4 separate regions of the Homo sapiens genome follow, and regions 1, 2 and 3 are each linked to region 4. Evidence: fine-mapped expression QTL. A gene starts in region 4. Each other region holds a variant in brackets. All regions are shown on one strand. Distances are from middle to middle. Region 1 has its middle 47 kb from the start of PPM1K. Region 2 overlaps LOC124900730 (a long non-coding RNA gene). Region 3 has its middle 22 kb from the start of MEPE. Region 4 holds the start of PKD2 (polycystin 2, transient receptor potential cation channel).

Region 1 (5,152 bases), 230 kb before region 4:
CCTTACTTCTGCTTGAGGAGAGGAGAGGAAAGAGTAAAGAGGAATTTGTCTTGCAACTTGGATACCAACTCAGCCGCAGTAGGATAGGGCACTAGTCAGGGTCATTAGGCCCCCATTCCAGGCCCTAGTTCCCAGACAGTATTTCTAGACATACCTTAGGCCAGAAGGGAATCCACTGCCTTGAAAGGAAGGACCTATCCTGGGAGGAATCATCACCTGCTGATTAAAGAGACCTTGGGCCCTGAATAATCAGCAGCAGCACCCAGGCAGTACTTGCCATGGGCCTTGGGTAAGACTCAGAGATATGCTGGCTTTAGATGTGAACCAGCACAGTCCCAGCTATGGTGGCTATGGTGAGAGACTCCTTTTGCTTGAAAAAAGCTGAGGGAAAAGTAAAGAGGACTTGATCTTGCACCTTAGGTACCAGCTCAGCAACAGTGGGGTAGAGTAACAAGTGGGCTCTTGGGGCCCCTAATTAGAGGCCTTGGCTCTTAGATGGAATTTCTAAGCCTTCCCTGGGCCAGAAGGTGGACCATTTCCCTGAAGAGTGAGTCCCAGACCTGGCAGCCTTCAGCATAAGCTGACTGAAGAGCCCTTGGGCCTTAGTGAACCTCGGTGGTAGCCCGGCAGCACTCCCCTTGGGCCTGTGGAGGTGATGGCCATGGGTGAGTTTCCTCTGCCTGTAGAAAGGTGAGGAAAGCGTAGAAATAACTGTGTCACATAACTTGTGTGCTAGCTCAGCTGTGGTAGAATAGAGCACCAGGTAGATTACTAAGATTTTTGACTCTAGTCCCTAGTTCATGGATGGCATCTCTGGAAAAGAATAGGGTCTAGGGGAACTTGCTGCCCTGAAGAGAAGGACACAAATCTCGCTGGCTTTACCACCTGCTGATTGCAGAGCCCTAGGGCCTCGAGTGAACATAGGCAGTAGCCAGGTACTGGTTACAACAGGCCTTGGGTGAGACTCAGTGCTGTGCCAGCTTCAGGTCTGTCCCAACTCAGTCCCAGTGGTGGTGGCCACAGGGGTGCTTGTGTCACCCCACCCCCAGCTCCAGACAGCTCATCACAGAAAGACAGACTCCATTTGCTTGGAAGAAAGTAAGGAAAGAAACAAGAATCTGCCTGGTAATCCAGAGAATTATTCCAAATATTATTCAAGATTATCAAGGCAGTACCTCTATGAGTCTGGAAGAACCATAGTGTTACTGGGCTTGAGATGCCCCCTAATGTAGATATGTCTTAGATCTCAACACCCAAGTCTTTTTAAATGCCTGGAAAGAGTGCAGAGACTACCATAGATATCTGACTCTTCAATGCCCAAACGCCAATGAACATCCACAAGCATCAAGACCTTCCAGGAAAACATGACCTCACCAAATGAACTAAATAAGGGAACAGGGAACAATCCTGGAGAAGCAGAGATATATGACCTTTCAGACAGATAATTCAAAATAGCTGTTTGGGGGAATGCAAAGAAATTCAAGATAACACAGAAAAGGAATTTAGAATTCTGTCAGATAAGTTTAACAAAGAAATTGAAATAATTAGAAAGAATCTAGCAGAAATTTTGGAGTTGAAAAATGGAATTGACATGGTGAAGAATGCATCAGTCTTTCACCAGCAGAATAAATCAAAACAGAAGAAAGCATCAGTGAGCTTGAAGACAGGCTACTTGAAAATATACAGTCAGAGGAAACAAAAGAATAAAAAAATATAAAGTATGCCTAGAAGATCTAGAAATTAGCCTTAAAGGGGCAAACCTAAGAGTTATTGGCCTTAAAAAGGAGCTAGAGAAAGAGATAGGGATAGAAAGTTTATCCAAAGGAATAACACAGAACTTCCAAAACCCACAGAAAGTTATTGATAACCAAATATAAGATTATATAACACCAATCAGATTTAACCCAAAGAAGAACATCTCAAGGCATTTAATAATCAAACTCCCAAAGATCAAAAATAAAGGAAAGATTCAAAAAGCAGCAAGAGAAAAGAAACAAGTAACATACAATGAAGTGCCAATAAGTCTGGCAGCAGACTTTTCAGTGGAAACTGTACAGGCCAGGAGAGAGTGGCATAACATATTTGAAGTGCTTATGTAAAAAAACTCTTACACTAGAATAGTATATCTGGCAAAAATGTCCTTCAAGTATGAAAAAGAAATACTTTTCCAGACAAACAAAAGCTGAGGGATTTCATTAACATTAGACCTGTACTACAA[G/A]AAATGCTAAAGACAGTACTTCAATCAGAAAGAAAAGAACAGTAATGAGCAAGAAGAAATCATCTGAAGGTACAAAACTTACTGGTAATATTATAGTAACGCCACAGAAAAACACAGAATATTATAACACTGTAAGTGTAGACTTAACTACTCCAATCTTAAGTAGAAATACTAAAAAGATGAACCAATAAAAAAATAACTACAACAAGCTTTCAAGACATAGACGGTAAAATGAGATATAAACAGAAACAACAAAAAGTTTAAAAGTTGGCAGATGAAATTAAGGAGTAGACTATTGGTCTTTATTATTCTCTTTGCTTGTTTGTTTAAACAAGCAGTGTTGTTATCCGCTTAAAATCGTGGGTTATAAGATAGTATTTGCAAGCTGCACAGTAACTTCAAATCAAAAAACATACAACAGATACATAAAAAATAAAAAGCAACAAATTAAATCATACCACCAGAGAAAATTATCTTGGTTGAAAGGAAGACAGGCAGGAATGAAAGGAGGAAAAAGCAACCAGAAAACAAATGACAAAATGGTGGGAGTTAGTCCTTACTCATCAATAATAACACTGAATATAAATGAACTAAACCCTCTAATAAAAACACATGGAGTGGCAGAATGGATGAAAACACAAGATCTCATGATCTGTTGCTTTACAAGAAACACACTTCACTTAAAAAGACACACATAGAATGAAAAGAAAGGGATGGAAAAAGATATTCCATGCCAATGGAAACCAAAAAAGAGTAGACAAAATAGATTTCAAGACAAAAACTCTAAGAAGAGACAAAGAAGTCATTATATAATGATATAGGGGTCAATTCAGCAAGAGTATATAACAATTGAAATATATCTGCACCAACATTAGAGCACCCAGATATATAAAGCAAATATTAGAACTAAAGAGATAGAATCCAATACAATAAGAGCTGGAGACTTCAACCCCCCACTTTCATCATTGAACAGATCTTCCAGACAGAAAATCAACAAAGAAAGATCAGACTTAATCTCCACTATAGACCAAATGAACCTAATAGATATTTACATAACATTTCATCCAGTGGCTGCAGAATACATATTCTTCTCCTCACCACATGGATCTTTCTCAAGGATAGATTATGTTAGGCCTCAAAACAAGTCTTAAAACATTCAAAAAAATGAAATAATATGGACCATCTTCTCTGACCACAATGCAATAAAACTAGAAATCAATAACAAGAGGAATGTTTAGAAACTACACAAAACACAAGAAAATTTAAAAATATGCTCCTGAGTCAATGAAGAAATTAAAAGAAAATTTAAAACTTCCTTGAAACAAATGATAATGGAAACACAACATACCAAAACCTATGGGATACAGCTAAAGCAGTACTAAAAGGAAGGTTTACAGCTGTAAGTGCCTACATCAAAAAAGAAGAAAAACTTCAAATAAACAACCTAAGGATTCATCTTAAAGAACTAGAAAAGCAAGAACAAACCAAACCCAAAAGTAGTAGAAGAAAAGAAATAATAAAGATCAGAGCAGAAATAAATGAAATGAAGAAAACAATACAAAAGATCAAAATAAAATGCCGATTTTTTGAAAATATAAACAAAATTGACAAACCTTTAGCCACACAAATGAAAAAAAAATAGGAGAGAAGACCCAAATAAATAAAATCAGAGATGAAAAAGGAGACATTTCAGCCAATCCTGCAGAAATTCAAAGGATCATTAATGGTTACTATGAACAGCTATATGCCAATAAATTGGAAAAGCTAGAAGAAATGAAAAAATTCCTAGACACATATAACCTACCAAGAATGAACCATGAAGAAATCTAAAACCTGAACAGACCAATAGCAAGTAATGAGATTAAAGCTGTAATGAAAAATCTCCCAGCAAGAAAAACCCTGGGATTCAATGGCTATATTGCTAAATTCTACCAAATACTTGCTAGAAAAACAAATACTATCCTATTCAAACTATTCCAAAAAGGAAAGGAAAAGGGAACATTTCCAAACTCATTCTACAAGGCCAGCATTACCTTGATACCAAAACATGTCAAAACATATCAAAAACACAATGATACCAGCCTGGGAAACATGGTGAAACCCCAACTTTACAAAAAATACAAAAATAAGCCAAGCATGATGGTTCATGCCTATAGTCCCAGCTACTCAGGAGGCTGAGGTGGGAGTATCACTTGAGCCTGGGAAGTCAAGGCTGCAAGGAGCTGTGATCATGCAACCACACTCCAGCCTGGGCATCAGAGTCAGACCCCGTTTCAAAACAAAACAAAACAACACCAAAAACCAAAAAACCCCACAAAGACAAGGACATATTTTTTAAAAAAGGGACAGGCTATTATCAGTGATGAATATTGATGCAAAAATCCTCATCAAAATACTAACAAATTGAATACAAAAACAAATTAAAATATCATTCATCATGACCAATTGAGATTTATCCCAAGGATGCAAGAATGGTTCAACATATGCAAATCAATTAATGTGATAAGTCATATCAACAGAATGAAGGGCAAAAAACATAAGATCATTTCAATTGATGCTGAAAGAGCATTTGATAAAATTTAACATTCCTTCATGATAAACTCCCCCAAAAAAATGGGTATAGAAGAAACATATCTCAACATAATATAAGCCATATATGACAGACCCAGAGCTAGCATCGCACTGAATGGGAAAAATACTGAAAGCTTTTCCTCTAAGATCTGAAACATGACAAGAATGTCCAATTTCACCACTGTTATTCAATGAAGTACTGGAAGTCCTAGCTGGAACAATCAGATGAGAGAAAGAAAGAAAGGGCATCCATATTGGAAAGGAAGGAGTTAAATTATCCTTGTTTGCAGATGATATGATCTTACATTTGGAAAAACTAAAAACTCCAGCAAAAACCTGTTAGAACTGATAAACAAATTCAGT
Region 2 (5,152 bases), 42 kb after region 4:
ATTTTTTCACATATGCCACCCAGCTAACGCCATGCTATGGTCATGAGCCATACAGTGTGGGAGAGTGTCAGTATGTCTCTGCTAATCTCAAACAGCTGTGAATCACCAGTTCAAAACACACACCTACTGATTATGGGTTAATATCATTAGCTTCATTCTTAATAGATACAATGATCTTAAATATTAGTTTTCTTGACTCTCTAAACTTTGAACAAATTGCTTATTGTATTTTAACAAGTATCATATTTCTACAGAAAGACATGTTTCATAGTTGGTCTTATGCCTTACCACATTTGAATTCTATGTAGCACCTACCATAATAATTGTGCAGGTACTGTTGGCTGTACACCAAAGATGTGTTGTCTTCAGAGTAGTTGCTGGGAAGCAGCTGCCCAGCTGAAACTACATTTCTCAGCCTCCCTTGCATTTAGATGTGGCCATATGTCTAGTTCTTGCTAAGGGAATGTAAAACAAAGTGATGTGTTTCCCTTCCAGGCGGAAGTGCCTAAAAACTTCAAAAAGCGTGCCTCCCCCATAGTCTTCTTCCTTACCCTTTCACCAGATGAAGAGGACTGAAGCATTTTGGATAGCAGAGCCCAGGGAGAACATGACTTGAGCTGTCTGCTGATCTGGAACCCTAGCATTAGATATCGTATTGTTACAGGATCTTTGGAGTGTTGCTTTTTTGGCCAGAAACATACAGCCGGTGGTGCCTTTGCCTCTGGCCCACTGGACTCATTCTGCCCACTCAGCCTGGCAGGCTGTGTTCAGCTCATGCTACTGGCCTGGATCCCATGCCTCCAAGGGATGCCGCGAGTCAGGCATGGAGTGGCAATGGGGTGTGAATGAGCATAGAGTCTGGCCACTGTGCAGTCAGACACGCCAGCTGCTGCTGCGGGGCAGGAAGCTCCAGGTGCCGACATGGGCGCCAGCTCTCTTCAAGGCTGTGGCTGGACCAGCGCCCCACAGGCAGCTGTCCTGGCTCATACTAGGGAATGTGGTGGTGCCCAGAGGCTCAGAGACACCAGGGACCACAGGGTCTCAAAAAGGGAGTCACAGCCCTAGCTCAGGGAGATCCCAGGTCTAGGCTCCCTGAAGGGCTGCAGCTCTTCTCTCCTCTTTGCCCACCAACAAAACGAGCAAGGGGCATATTTCAGCTCTGTTTGTGTTACAGCTCTTTTAGCATCACCATTCCACAAGTCCTGAGTTCTTGTCCTGTGACCAGGAAGAATGAGGTACATAGACAAGTGGAGGGTGAGGAAGACGAAGAGGAGTTTTATTGAGCAACAGAACACCTCAGGGAAGACTCACAGTGGGCAGCTCCTCTCCATAGCTAGGGTGTCCTGACGAGTGTTCAGCTCCTATCAGAGATATAGGCAGGTCATCCCGAAAAGTGTTCAGTTCTCAGCAGAGTGGGTATCTCCTCTCTGCTGCTGGCTGTCCCTTCATCTCTCCATCCTCTGCCCTGGTGTTGCTGAGCCCAGGGCATTTATGGACCTCAGAGGTGAAGAAGTGCACACCAATTGGTCCATGGGCAACCATGGGCAGGCCTGGAAAAGACACCACGAGTCTCCGCTCCAGTCTGTGGGACTGGCAGCCTGGCCCCCAGCCTTCAGGCTCTCCCTGGCCTGAAAATGGGGCCTCACCTGGACCTGCCCCCTTCTGCCCAGGAGCCGGTCTGCCTCCTGTGGCTGTCCATGGCACCCAGGCTGCTTGCACAAAGGGGCACTTGCAAGCCAGCACTGAGCTGCCCTCATCCTCACCTCCACTTCCCTCCCCGCAACACTCATCAGTGCCCAAAGTCTGGAGGAGGCCGAGGTGGCAGGGGGCTGGTGTGTCAGTGCTGTCCGGAGCATGCGCACAGCCAGCTGGGCTGTGACAGCTCTCCGGCTTGGCCCCAACCCCACTCCAAGATTGGAGTGGGTGCCAGGAGTGGGGAGAGACCAGGCAGCAGGAGCAGACAGGCCCCCTAGGGTGCAGACTGCACAGACTCCCAGGTCCTGCTCCTGGGAGGGCGGGGCTTTTGCCCACCCAGCTCACAGCCTTGTCTGAGGGGGACCCTTTGGGAGTGGATCAGGGCCTGGCCTGGCAGTTGAGAGTGTCAGGCCCGGTGATCACCTCAATGCGGGACGGAACCCCTGGACACAGCCCCAGTCAGCCCTGTGCAGAGCCTTCTCCTGACGTGCAGGAACTTGGCTTGGTGGGGTGGGTGCTGTCACTGCAAAAATTGGCTGGGTCCTGAAGCGGGCACTGCTCCCACTTCCAGCCATGGGGCCCTGAAGCACACCCCAGGTCAGCGCCTTGGCTCGGCCACCACGCTCTGTGTGCAAGCGTCACACTGCCCTGGACCCAGTTCTGCCTTGGGGACCCTCTCTGCCTGACAGCTGCTCCCCTGCCCATGGGCGACTTGGCCTGGCCCCATCGTGGTGGCCCCCAGGGCTGTGGGCTTCGGGGACTGTCTGCCTCTTCCACACATCCTCCCTGCAGCAGCAGAGGGTGACAGCAGCAACGCGGGGCCAGGGGCTGAGCTACGGAGGCTCTGGGCCTGGGGATAGGTCCTGCCCTGCAGTGCTAGGGTCC[C/G]GGTGGCGTAGTCGGCTGCCTCCCAGACATTGGACATAGGGCACAGGGGTACCCCCTCCCCCGCAACCCGCCACTACTGCTCCCACAGCCGCTCCTGCCACCACCGCTGGCGCCTCCCAGCTGCAGCTGGCAAGATGACAGCAACCGCTCCGGATGGCCCACCGTTGCCATCAGTATGAATGAGAAATAAGTTTCTATTGCCTTTAGTGCCTGACATCTGTTACGATAGCAGATGTTACCTTAATTAACACAATGCCATATGCATAATATTGCTCAGTTCATAGCTTTTGGATTTTATCGTCTGTGTTCCAGGTCACTAGACTCATGAAACGGAATTTAAGTTATGGTGCTATAACTTTATATGTATCTATTTTCTATTAATTTTTGCTCCCCCATTTCTAAAAGCCAGAATAAGTTCATGCGAGGTTACTAATATGTTAAAATTGAAGTTGATTATTTTATACAATAAGTATGTGACTAATTTTTTCCACAAGGAGATGGTATGCAATATCAGTAGATAAGTGATTAGGATAGCGGGCTTCTCTTGATCCTCTGTTTTTGTTTTTCCCACTTTTGCAAGAAGAGAATCAGCTGTGGTATAGGTTTTAGTGGATAGTGTCCCATGTTGGGAATCTGGGAACCTGAATTTTATCTTGCCTATACCACATAATTAAATATTGTTAAGTTGGCTTATTTCTGAGAAGAAAGAGGCTACAGCTGCCTTCCACTAAATGATAAATTCATCTCGCAACTTCTGAATCGTTCACACAGCATCATTTGCTTTTACTTCTTAGTTAGGCCACCTGTTTTTTGGATACCTTTTGCTTTTTGACCTTCTAACAAGTAGCCAGTGGCAGTTAGAGATCAAGTTAAATTGTCCAGGCTTGGTCCTCAAGTCTGTAATCCCAGCACTTTGATTGCTTGTGCTTAGGAGTTCAAGACCAGCCTGGTCAACATGGCAAAAACCCTGTCTCTATGAAAATAAATAAATAAATAAATAAATAAGAGATCAAGTTAAAATCAACCCATCTAGTTATATTTGAGAACTTAAAGTCATGTTCTCTGAAGGTTTTGAATGACTTCCGTTTACTAGTAAGGATGTGTTCACAGATTAATTTTAGTCTTAGTTGCCTCTCACCAGATCAAATATTGTGTGGGAGGTAAATTCTAGGAAACCTGAAGAATTTTAAAGCACTCTACCATCCTCATATGGAGATGACCATAATTAAAGGAAACAGTAGCTTATGTCAGAAACTGTTTATTGTTGGGAGCTGAAGCTTTGACCCTTTCCTGTATATTTATTTCACTGATATTCCTAAACCTTTGGTGGTCTTTTGGTCTGTGGGTCATAGCTGGGCTAAGGGGTTAGCCAGAGTTCTTAGTGAAGTAGCAAAAGAGGTTATGTGTGACATATCAGCAGAGTGGGTACACCCATTTGTCTGGGTTGGGGAGGAAGTGGAGGCTGGGATCAGTAAAGTGGCCTTTTTCTGTTTTTAGACAGTGCCAAAGCATCTCAGACTGGGGTTTCAGCTTTATTTTTGTTTACGAGGAGTTGGTTCAGACACAAGTGAAATTGTGGTGTCTTAACCTCTAGTAAGATTGAAAACATACATGTTGTTTCATCAAGCTTGGTCTCTTAGGAACCCGGTTTATCGTAGAGATGATGTTATTCTGAATTTAGAAGGAAAAGGGTGACAGAGTTTCATTACAAAGATTATAAAGATGATGATTACAAAGATTACAAACATTTTGTAATCGCTGACTAGAATATAAATGAGTATAAAAATTTTACTTTTTAAGAAGGATAGAAATCCTACATACAGTAAATCTATTTTTCTAAAACATGTTTTACTTCCACAGCAGTTTTATAAAATTGGCAGCTGACTTATTTTTTGTGGTCCTATCTTCTAGCCTGAGTGTTAACCAGGTGGACAGGCAGATTAGGATTAGGAAATAAGATCAATTAAACTTTTATCCTATAGTACCAGGTTTGAGCGGGTACATGGTTGTGTGTAGATCTTTCTTTCACACACAGGATTTGAGTGTTTTTTTTTTTTAACAAAAATTTATGAAACATAAAAGTATAGAGTAAACAGTTGAGGAATTTACTAAAAGAAAGCTAAGAATTCAGAAAGAATTCTAAAAGAAAGCTAAGTGTTGGAGTAAATATTGCACAAAATATAAAACATTTAGTTCTATACATTGGCATGTAAATGTTAATTTTAGTTGCTTTGAAACAACAAAATAAAAATATCAATTTCAGTTATGGTTTAAAAATACACATTGTATGTATCCATGCAGTTAACCAAAATGCATTTTTGAAAAAAAAGGGTGATAAGAATCCTAAAAGATAAAAATGAGACCTCTATTAAAAATAGTATTTCCTATCTAGCACTATGATTCCAGTCCTAGACTCTCCCAGCTGGAAGAGAGATGGTAGGAAGGCAGGGCATTGAGAAAAAAGGGGATGGTTCTTGACTTGTGGCTTCATTTCAGCTCTAAGACAACTTAAATTCTAAAAGTGCAGAAAATCACAAGGAATGAAGATTAGAGCAGATTTAGTTCAAATAAA
Region 3 (5,152 bases), 150 kb after region 4:
GCTTGGTACTACGTTGTTGTGAATGACCTAAGTCAATTAAGCTATTCACAATTATCAGGTTGTTCGGATAAGCATTGGCACATCCAGTAGTGAGGAGTGGCCGGGAACTATGGGATTCTTTTCCCATGGCTTTGCTCCCATGGTGGTATCCAACAGTGAAAACAAGTCTCAGACCGAATGCTACCACATGTTCAAGCATTTATTAGCAAACAGACAAAAACAGCCAAGAGCCTGTTCCTTCAGGGACAACAAAGTCTCCACTGTGACCTCTTAGGCTCTCCAACAAGCACCCTGCATGAAAGGTTCACTCTTAGGCAAATGTAATAACATTCTGATGACAGGTTCAGCTAACCTTCTGATTGGGTCAGGAAATAGAATCCTTCATTATTTGAGAGATCAGATGACCTTACTCTAGAGGAATTCAGCTAATGGATGCATCAGATTCTCTCACTCTGTTCATTCAGAAAGGAGAAACCTGCATGATCTTTCTAGCTTGCTGTAGGTTTCTGTAGGTTTATTGGTTTATCCTGTCTGCAGTTCACCCACCTATTTAAATCTGTAGGTTTTTGTCTTTTGCCAATTTGGAAAGCTTTCAGCCATTATTTCTTCAAGTGCTTTTTCAGCCCTGCCCTTTTTTTCCTCTCCTTCTAGAACTCCAATGACGTAAGTGTTAGATCCATAGGTCCCTGAAGCTCTGCTCTTGTGTTTTTGTTTGTTTGTTTGTTTTTACAGGCTATTTTTTCTGTGTTCAGGTTGAAAAATTGTTCTGTCTTCTAGTGGACTGATTTTTTCCTCTGTTCCCTCCATCCTTTTAATGAGCCCATCCACTGAGTTTTTCAAAATTTCCATTATTGTCTTTTTCATGTCTAACATTTCCATCTGGTTCTTCTTTAGATCCTCTCTTTCTTTGCTGAAACTTTCTACTTTTTCATTTGTTTGAAGTGCATTTATAAATTTCTCATTGAAGCATTTCTATGATGACTGCTTTACAATAATTTGTTAGGAAATTCTAACATCTCTGCTGACTCAGTGTTGGCATCTATTGATTGCCTTTGTTCATTCAGTTTGAGATCTTCCTGTTTCTTTGAATGATGAGTGATTTTCAATTGAATCCTGGGTACTTTCATATTATAAGACTCTGGGTATTATTTAACTTCTATTTTTGCTTCCTATGACACCACTTTAGAAGGGTAGAGATAGACGCCCAGGTTTCCCACTTGGCCTCCCTTGACATCCCTGTGTGTGTGTGTGCATGTGTGTTGGGGGCTCCTCATTACTACAGGAAAGGGTGGAAGTTCTGGCTCCCCACATGGTCTCTGGTGGCACCATAGGTAGGTGGCATTGTTACTGCTAAGCAGTGGTAAAAATCTTGACTCTCCACTAGACCTCCTGTGCCCCCCCCTCAGCAGGAAGTTGCCGAGTGGGAGTGGAGTCCAGGCTGTCCTCATGGTCTCCACTGATACCACAGGAACTGCTTGTTACAGGCTGGCTGGAATGAGAGTACCAGCTCTCTTCTCAGCCTTCTGTGATACCACCCCGGAGGTGGTGGTGGTGGTGGTGACGGGGCTGAGGCACCTCGTGGTGGCGTCTCCAGGTTGGAAGTCTGGGCTCCCCCACTCAGCCTTGGCTTGTGTGGGTGGGGTTGGGGCCACAGTTTTCTCTGCGGTGTTTGGCTGGCGTAGAGTGGTTATTGTCTAAAAGTGTTCAGCGTTGCTGGACTGCCCCTTTCCTGTTCCTTTGGCTAGAGTGTGCAGGCTTTTTTTGTCTGTATTTGGTGTTTCTGGGCTGCCAGCATCTGGAGCTCCAAGTCTGGGATATATGAGACCAAAAAAAGCCCAGGAAGCTTAATGCCTTGTCATTCCTTGAGTCTTAAGGTCCCTGGCCCATCTTTTTAATTCTCTCCACCTTTCAGAGTTTTCTTGGGTCTGTTCTACATGTGTCCAGGGATTACAGTTGTAATTTGGTTGTAATCTATTTCACCTTTCCAAGGTGAAAAAAAAACCTTTAGTTTTTTTTTAAGTCTACATTATCACAGTTTTCTGTACTGTCACTATTCTGATTTCATTTTTTTCTTTTTCTTTTGTTTTTTGAAACAGAGCCTTGCTCTGTCATCCAGGCTGGAGTACAGTGGCGCGATCTCGGCTCACTGCAACTTCTGCCTCCTAGTTTCAAGCGATTCTCCTGCCTCAGCCTCCTAAGTAGCTGGGACCGCAGGAGCATGCCACCACGCCCGGCTAATTTTTGTATTTTTTGTAGACAATGGGTTTCACCATGTTGCTCAGGATGGTCTCAAACTTCTGGACTCAAATGATCTGCCCATCTTGGCCTCCCAAAGTGCTGGGATTACAGTGTGAGTCACCGTGCCCAGCCTGATTGCATTTTTGATCTTATTGCTGGTCTTGTAGGTTTAGGAAATGCTGTAGAGCTCAGCATATTGATATTAGCAAAGCATTTGACAAAATTCTTTTGTGAGCATATCTAGGCCAGTTAATAATAGAGCCATAGTCATTATTAACCAAACAGCTGCACCCAAAAAGTATTGATTAATAGATCAGCATCGGCCGGGCGCGGTGGCTCACGCCTGTAATCCCAGCACTTTGGGAGGCCGAGGCGGGTGGATCATGAGGTCAGGAGATCGAGACCATCCTGGCTAACAAGGTGAAACCCCGTCTCTACTAAAAATACAAAAAATTAGCCGGGCGCGGTGGCGGGCGCCTGTAGTCCCAGCTACTCGGGAGGCTGAGGCAGGAGAATGGCGTGAACCCGGGAAGCGGAGCTTGCAGTGAGCCGAGATTGCGCCACTGCAGTCCGCAGTCCGGCCTGGGCGACAGAGCGAGACTCCGTCTCAAAAAAAAAAAAAAAAATAGATCAGCATCAGGCTACAAGGGGGCCAACTTCAATATGCTGCAGGCACTGTCCTAGCCTGCCCTCTGCCCTGTTCAAAATTTCTTCAAACTGGTGAATGAACACCCAGGAAGTATTTGCATCTTAAGAACTGGGAGTGATAGTTAATATTTAGGATCACAAAATCGAGATTGAAGAAACTTCAATAAAATAGCATTGTGAAATAGAGCATTATGCATCCTGGATCAGAAAATAAATGATATAATACTGTACAAAGAGCAGAGCTGGTCTAATATTGTTTTTTATGGAGTAAGCACATGAG[C/T]AAACAAAAACCAGAAGGAAGTTAGTACTTATATAATTAGAAATTAAATAAGGAGAAAGGGAAACTAATATGAATTTAGCCTGTATTTTGGACCAAGTGCTGACATAGGCATTTTGTAGATGTTAAGGAGTCTAACACAATCCTAGACTATATTAACAGGATTGAGTGGCCAGAATAAAGGGTAGACTATTACATGGTCTGCTGAGATGTTCAAACAATATGTGGAATATTGTGCCCAACCAACTGGAGGTAAGTGTGGTGAAAGAGCACATGAAAGGTCATTGAAAAATGTTTAGTTTGATGAGGAGAAGTGTAGAAAACAGGAAACATGTAATGTGGAAAATGAATGCATCTTTCTGCCTAGCACCAAAAGTGTAAGGTAAGGTAATGAACTCCCTGTTAGTGTAAGTATGTAAACAGTGGCAAAATGACCAGCTATTAGGGGTGAAACACAGTGAACCTGCCTTAGGTGAGCACTGGACCAGATGATCTCTAAGGTTTCTTCCAAGAATCTCTGCACCTGTATAGAGCCAGTTAGAAAAAGAATGGCAACGTGTTAATGTCAGGGGGTTTAGCCTCACAAAACTAAGCACAGCTGATCTTGGCTTTAAGGAGATTCAGACATTAGTAAGAAAGAAAAGAGACTTTTTAAGACAAATTCCACTTTATTATCTAAGGAAACAGGAAATTCAGAGTTTTATAGGAGAGATGTATGCAAACAAAAACTAGATTAAGTTTCCAGAGGGGGCTGTTATTATTCAAACAAAAGAGCCCTTGTTTTTATTTATGGAGTTTAAAAGTAATAGGATACGGGCATTATGAAAGAGAGGCACCTGATTGTATGTTTTTTTTTTTTTTTTTTTAAACTTCCTTTAGGGAGACATTTCCAAATTTAATTGTGAATGAAAGTTAAAAACTCTCTTTGCTTTGTTTCAAAATGCTTTTCAAAAAGTGAGCGAGGTTGCCATCTAGTGACTATTTTCTGGTTTTCCATTTTAAAAGCTCTTTAATACGGGTTCTTATGGCAGTGTTGCTGAAACCTGGCTGTGTATTAGTGTCACCTGGAAGTTTCCTAAAATGCAGAATACTAGGACCCACCAAAGAATCGGAATCTTTGAGAATGAGCTCCAGGGTTGTGCTTTCTGATAAAGATCTTCAGATGACTCCACTGGACCTAGCCTGTCACCAGTGTTTGGAATTAACTGCCCTGGGGCATATTGTGTGCAGGTGGAAGTGTCACAGAGGCAAATTTATGTAAAGTGCAATATTCACTTACTTGCTCTAAGAACCTACTTGCTCAGGTATATGAAACTTGATGTTGCATCTTTGTATCTCATATTTAAAATAGACTTGGTAATGCTAAAAATTTACCCTACTGTTGTACACAAAGATACATGACCAGTGATGTTTATTGTAACACTGTTTGAATAGTGATTAGCTAAAAATCATTTAAATGCCTATCAATAGGGATGTGGCTAAAAAAATGACAGTAAATCAAAGCAGCAAATTTTATGCAGCCATTTAAAAAGAATGGTTAAGCATCATATACAATTTTTATTTGTCAATCATACCTCAGTAAAGCTGAAAAAACACAAGAGTTTATAATAGAGACAAACTGGGAAAATGCTAAATATTCTTCAATAGTAGACTGAACAAACTGTGGTAAATGTATATAATAAAATTTAAAAATGATTTAAAAATATTTGGTAATGTGATAAAAGAGCAAATTAAGATAGCAGAAAAGAACACTAAAAGAATATAATGTTTTCTTAGAATATATGTCAGTATATAGTTAGAAAAAGAACTGGGAGGAAAAATGTGATGAAAGTGTAATTTTTTTTTATATTTTCTTTTTTTGTAATTTTATATAATGGGTTTTTCATTTCTCTCATAATCAGAAAACTAAAAACATTATTTTGAGAGAGAAAGATATGTGAATTGATTCAAAGCTTACTGTCACATGCTTTTAGTAAGTGTTAGATGAAC
Region 4 (5,144 bases):
GCAGCTTGAGCCCAGGAGTTTGAGGCCGCAGTGAGCTACGTTTGCTTCCCCGCACTCCAGCCTCAGTGACAGAGTGAAACCCCGACTCTTAAAAAAAAAAAAAAAATTCCCGATTCCTGAGTCTGCTCTCCTACAAATCAGACCATTGACACACTTTGGCTAGAGGTTTTATGACTATGAGCTTATTCATTTTGTTTCCTGAAATTTTCCTTTAAAAGAAATAAATTTACATACATACTCATATGAAATATATATTTTATTTCTCTATATTCTGTTATTGAGTTTATTCAAACAAGGTTAGGGGTGTTATCAAATGCTTAAACTGAGTTAAAAGGATCATGCAACTTACCATTATTTATTAACTTAAAAGGAACTTCTCTCTCACTTCAGTGAATATTTTTTAAATGCACATTTTAAATGGTGTAAAATAACATAATTAATCCAGTTTTGAATCTTAAAAAGTGTTAGTGTTTTATTAATTTACTCACACAGGTTATCCGAAAAGGATCTTCTGTTCCCCATCATGCTTTTAATAAAATTAACTAGTATAAGAATCTCCATAAACGAAGTACCAAAATGTTTACATTTATATTTCTGAAGCGCTAATAACATGACAAATACATGCTGCACATTTTATGTCTTAACTCACTTAATTCTCCCAAAGAGTCAAGTCCTAAGCGTTATGATCATCTCTTTAAAAAAAAAAAAAATCCAAAAATTGGGTATCAGAGAGGATAAGTAACTTGCTCAAGGTCGTACAGCTAATGAGTGGTGGAACTGGGATTTCAGTGTAGGCCTGACCTGGTTTTAATCACACTGCTGTAACAACACCTGGATTGTTTTTGTGCAAGACTTTCAAAACTGACAGAAGGAGAAGAACAAGAAAAACTCAACTGAGAATGGAAACTCTTAAAAATATAGATTAAAATAATTTGGAGGGTAAAAGCAAATGAAATACTTTCCCAAGGATACCTCTGACAAAATTTGTAAAAAGAGAATTTCCTCTGGTACTAGAAAATTCATGTCCTCTTACTGGGCACTGGCAAATTTGAAAATTCCTCTTCTGCCTTTTGTAGAGCTGGGCGCACTGGGCTCAGACACATTTATCAGCTGCTATCTGGTGACTTCATCATTTTGGTGGAATTTCAAAGAACATTAATTTAGTTATTTAAAAACATACTTCAAATTTTTTTAAAACAATGTAATCTTTCCTTTGCAACTGTTTTTAGAAAAATGTCTAGAATTAGAAACGGCCAAATAACTTCACGATATTATTTTATTCTATTTGTGGTGTTCTTAACAGCTCCCACTCCTCAAAACAACCACACACATCACCAAAAAAATGCACCAATGACAATCTGCCACACTCCTCCCACAACTTGACATTATATGCACTGTACTGCTACCCTTTTCAGCCCGGGACAATGGAGTGTCCAGGCAAGAAGGAAACCACGGGTGACTATAACATTTTCCTTTAGATTTTGTGACATTGGCAAATATGCAGTTGCAACTACCATCAGTTACACAAGTAATGTTCATTTTTTCCTCTACAAGAAAAAAAAAAACAAAACCCAGATGTACTCTTTCACTCTAATTAGGCTTTCACTAATTTTCAGTAAAAAAGACTATGGTGACATATCCTGAAGAAGGAGGTATCCAATAAATATGCACCAACAAAAGAGCAGTGGAATTCCGCGCTGGGTACCGGAAATAGGGCAGCACTAGCGGAGGTGGGGAATGCGCTTCCAAGGGAGGCGGAACGCAGAGGGGATGCGAGATGGAGCCCGGGGAGCTGCCGCAGCGGGCGATGGCCCCGGCCGGCGCCGGCCGTTCTGGTTCGTGCATCTGCCGCTGCGGGTCGCGCGCTCTTACCTCGCAGCCCGCGAACCAGCCTCTCCGCCCAGGCCACTCGGGGCGGCTGCCCTTCCAGGGGGAGGTGGCGATGCAGCGGGTCCCCGCCGCCGACTGGGCTGGGGCACGGCGGGCCCTGGTCCTCTCGCCGGCGCCGCCTCCCGCTCGGGTGGCCCGCGCCGTGGTAGCCCCCAAGCCCCCGGCTCCGCGCGCCCACGGAGCTCACGGCCGAGGAGGCGGCCGACCTCCGGCTGCCCGGGCGCCACTCTACGTCCATCTCCACCACCATTCCGCCTTCTTCCCCTTCCACCTCCTCCTCCTCCTCCTCGGCCTCGAAGCCGGGGTTATCGCGGCTCCACGCCTGCCGGGAGCACGACGAGAGCGGAGGAGAAGGGGAGGCCGCGGCTCCGGCCGGGGGGTCCCGCGCGGCCGCCTGCCGGATGCGCTGCATCTCGATCTCCAGGCCCCGCTGCTCGCAGAGGCCGCCCGGGGCGGCGAGGCTGGCGCCCACGGCCGCGCAGCCAGCCATCAGCCGGCCCGGGTCCGGCGCGCGGGGCGCGGGCGGCCGCTTGGCGTCCCCGGGCTGCTGAGGCTGCACGCGACTGGAGTTCACCATCGCGGTCACTGGCGTCCGGCGCGCGGGTGCGCGGCGCCGCGCTCGGCGCTGTGCGCCTCAGGAGCCATGTTCCTTTCTTCCCGGCGCCCGCCGCCGCCTGCTCCCCGCCCCCGACCTCCCCGCGGTCCCGCGTCCTCTCGCCCGCCCCTTTGGCCCGCCTCCCTCTGGCCTCGCCCCGCCTCGCCCATCCGCCGCGGCGCGCTGAGCGGGGAGGTGCGAGGGAGCCGCCCCCGCGGTCTGCGCGCTCGCCCGGCGGCTCCCGAGTCCGCGTTCCAAGTGGAACCGGAGCCCGGGCGCGGGCGCCCACGTTCCATTCCCGGGAAGGCCTGGGAAGGGAGGGAATCGCTCACCCGCCAGCCCGCCTGCAGGGAAAGGGCTCCTGGAGCTGTCGATGCCTGCCCGACGCTGAGATAACTCTTGGGTCCCAGTTATCCACCAGCCACTTCTGCCTCGATTCACCAAAGGGCAGGGAAAGAACCTTTTGGTGAGATGGTGTGAATTAGCGACATCCAGCCTGAGCTGAAGTCTCCAGCGGGTCAAAGAAATCTTTCCATTTGCAAACTACCAAGGCTGACTTGCTGTGCATTTGGCGGGCCTCCTGCCCCTGATTCTGCTGGTTTGGAGATGCTTTCTCGCTCTTTGGTTGGCTTCTGTCTCCACACATTGTGGGGATCCCAGGGATTCGTCATAGGACTCTCGGATCGCTGGTGCCTCCACTGTGATCTCCGGTCTCCCTGCGGCCAGCACTGACTTCTAGCAACAGAATCCTGCATGAGGGCCTAGGCACAGAACTTTATTTCCACTCTTCTGAACACATCTAATGTGATGCTCTGCAATTGTCTGAAATTTATCCTACCCTAAGTCATTATCTTGTCCCCTTCTCTGGAACCTGCTTCACTTCCCGTATCCCAAGGTGAGGTTTGGGGCTTCGCTGTCCTCCTCACTTCCCAGGCCACTCTTCTTCATGGAAGCCTCGCGGTTTACCCTCCACCGCCTACACCTTATCTTCTTGTTACTTTTGCCCCACAGATATCACCCTGATATGATCTCTGTTTCTCACTCCTGCTGGCTTGATCTTATGTCTTGCATTATTCCGCATTAGAACAATTGATCCCTGTCAACTCCCATCTCTATTCTCCACGTCGGTGTCCTCACTATTTCCAGGTTATATTGCAGAACCAAAGCTGCTTATTTGTCACGTTGATGCTTAGACACCTCTGTGGGCTTCTGGCAGCTGAAAGGATAAAATTTAATTTCTGTGGTTTGGTTTAGTAAATTCTCATAATCTGCTCCTGTATTTGTTTGTTAGGGCTGCCATAACAAAGTACCAGAGACTGGGTGGCTTAACAGAAATTTATTTGCTCACCTTGTCTCTACAAAAAATACAAAAATTAGCCAGGCTTTGCGGTGTGTGCCTTTGGTCCCAGCTATTAGGGACGCTGAGGTGGGAGGATCGCTTGAGCCCGGGAGGCAGAGGATGTAGTGAGCCAAGATCGGGCCACTGCACTCCAAGTGACAGAGTGAGACTCTGTCTCATAAAGAAAGAAAGAGAGAGAGAGAAGAAAGAAAAAAAGAAGGAAGGAAGGAAAAAGAAAAGAAAAATTGTATTTTCTCACGAGGTGTTGGCAGAGTTGGTTTCTTCTGAGGCCTCTCTCCTTGGCTTGCAGATGGCCCCGCTTTTGTGTCCTCACGCCGTCTTCCCTCTTCCCTCTGTATGCGTCTGTGTCCTAATTGTCTATTCTTATACATCATATTGGATTAGGGCCTACCCTCATGACCTTGTTTTCACTTCATTACTTCTGTAAAGACCCTGTCTCCAAGTATGGTCATGTTCTGAGGTAATGGGGGTTAGGACTTCAACACAGAAATTTTTGGGGGGACACAATTTAGCTTTAACAGCTCTTAATGTACTCCTCTAGCATGGCATCCCATGCCATCCATCCACCTTAATGAATTATTCATTTGTTCTCTAGGCACATATAACATGCTGCTAATATTTAGGTAATTATGGCTACCTATTACCTGATCCTGCAGTTTATTAATTTAGATATTCATGTTCTTCTCTTAACTGTGAGCTTCTCAAAGGCAAGACTGGTGGGTCTGGAGCACAGCCCTAGCTCATGCTATTCATCAGTTCATTCTGAAGACATTTCCTGTGCCCTGAATTAAGGTCTGGGCATGTAGAGAGGAGTATGATACAGCCTTGGCCCTCAAGAGGAGACAGACCAAAAATGAGAGATTACCAAGTGGGTTAAGGGTTATGGTGCCTGTCATCCAAGGAACTTCTGAAGCTGAAGATGTCCTGAATAGCACCAGCAGCACTGCAGAGTCGAAGGATTCTTACAGACACATTCCAACAGAGGAGAGCCAGGCCTGGAAAGAGAATGCAGAATCTGAGCCAAAGGGTCCTCTGGAGAATAGGCCTAGTACAATGTTTTCAAATTGTGATCAGAAGATCTCCAGCATCACTTGCAGCTCTTGCTAAAAATATAGATACTGGGTCCACATTCCAACCTTATTGACTCAAAATCTTCCGGATTCCAGTCCTGAAATTCTGAATCTTCACAGGGGATTCTCAGGCATCCAAAGTTTGAGAAGCACCAATGTGTTCCAAATGGAAGAGGTTTCATAAATATTTCCCCCACATTTCTATACTTCACTGTTAGCACTAGTGAGA

The links. PIP is the estimated chance that this variant, and not a neighbour inherited with it, causes the effect.
Region 1: its variant is the best candidate, but not a certain one, in a credible set for the expression of PKD2 in whole blood (TOPMed, PIP 0.67).
Region 2: its variant is the best candidate, but not a certain one, in a credible set for the expression of PKD2 in amygdala (GTEx, PIP 0.79).
Region 3: its variant is the best candidate, but not a certain one, in a credible set for the expression of PKD2 in whole blood (INTERVAL, PIP 0.66).

What each region holds. Positions count from the first base shown.
Region 1 is chr4:88,235,165-88,240,316 of GRCh38, reverse strand. No RefSeq gene overlaps it. Among named protein-coding and RNA genes, the nearest start is that of PPM1K, 47 kb to the left of the region's middle. The variant G/A (reference allele first, on the strand shown) is at 2,219.
Region 2 is chr4:87,963,117-87,968,268 of GRCh38, reverse strand. The region is part of intron 1 of LOC124900730 (a long non-coding RNA gene); the gene reads left to right. Among named protein-coding and RNA genes, the nearest start is that of SPP1, 10 kb to the left of the region's middle. The variant C/G (reference allele first, on the strand shown) is at 2,581.
Region 3 is chr4:87,852,208-87,857,359 of GRCh38, reverse strand. No RefSeq gene overlaps it. Among named protein-coding and RNA genes, the nearest start is that of MEPE, 22 kb to the right of the region's middle. The variant C/T (reference allele first, on the strand shown) is at 3,167.
Region 4 is chr4:88,005,057-88,010,200 of GRCh38, reverse strand. It overlaps PKD2 (polycystin 2, transient receptor potential cation channel), which reads right to left and starts at 2,566. Exons shown (of 15, transcript NM_000297.4): 1 at 1,873-2,566. The coding sequence starts at 2,467. RefSeq lists silencers at 1,684-1,823, 1,874-2,803.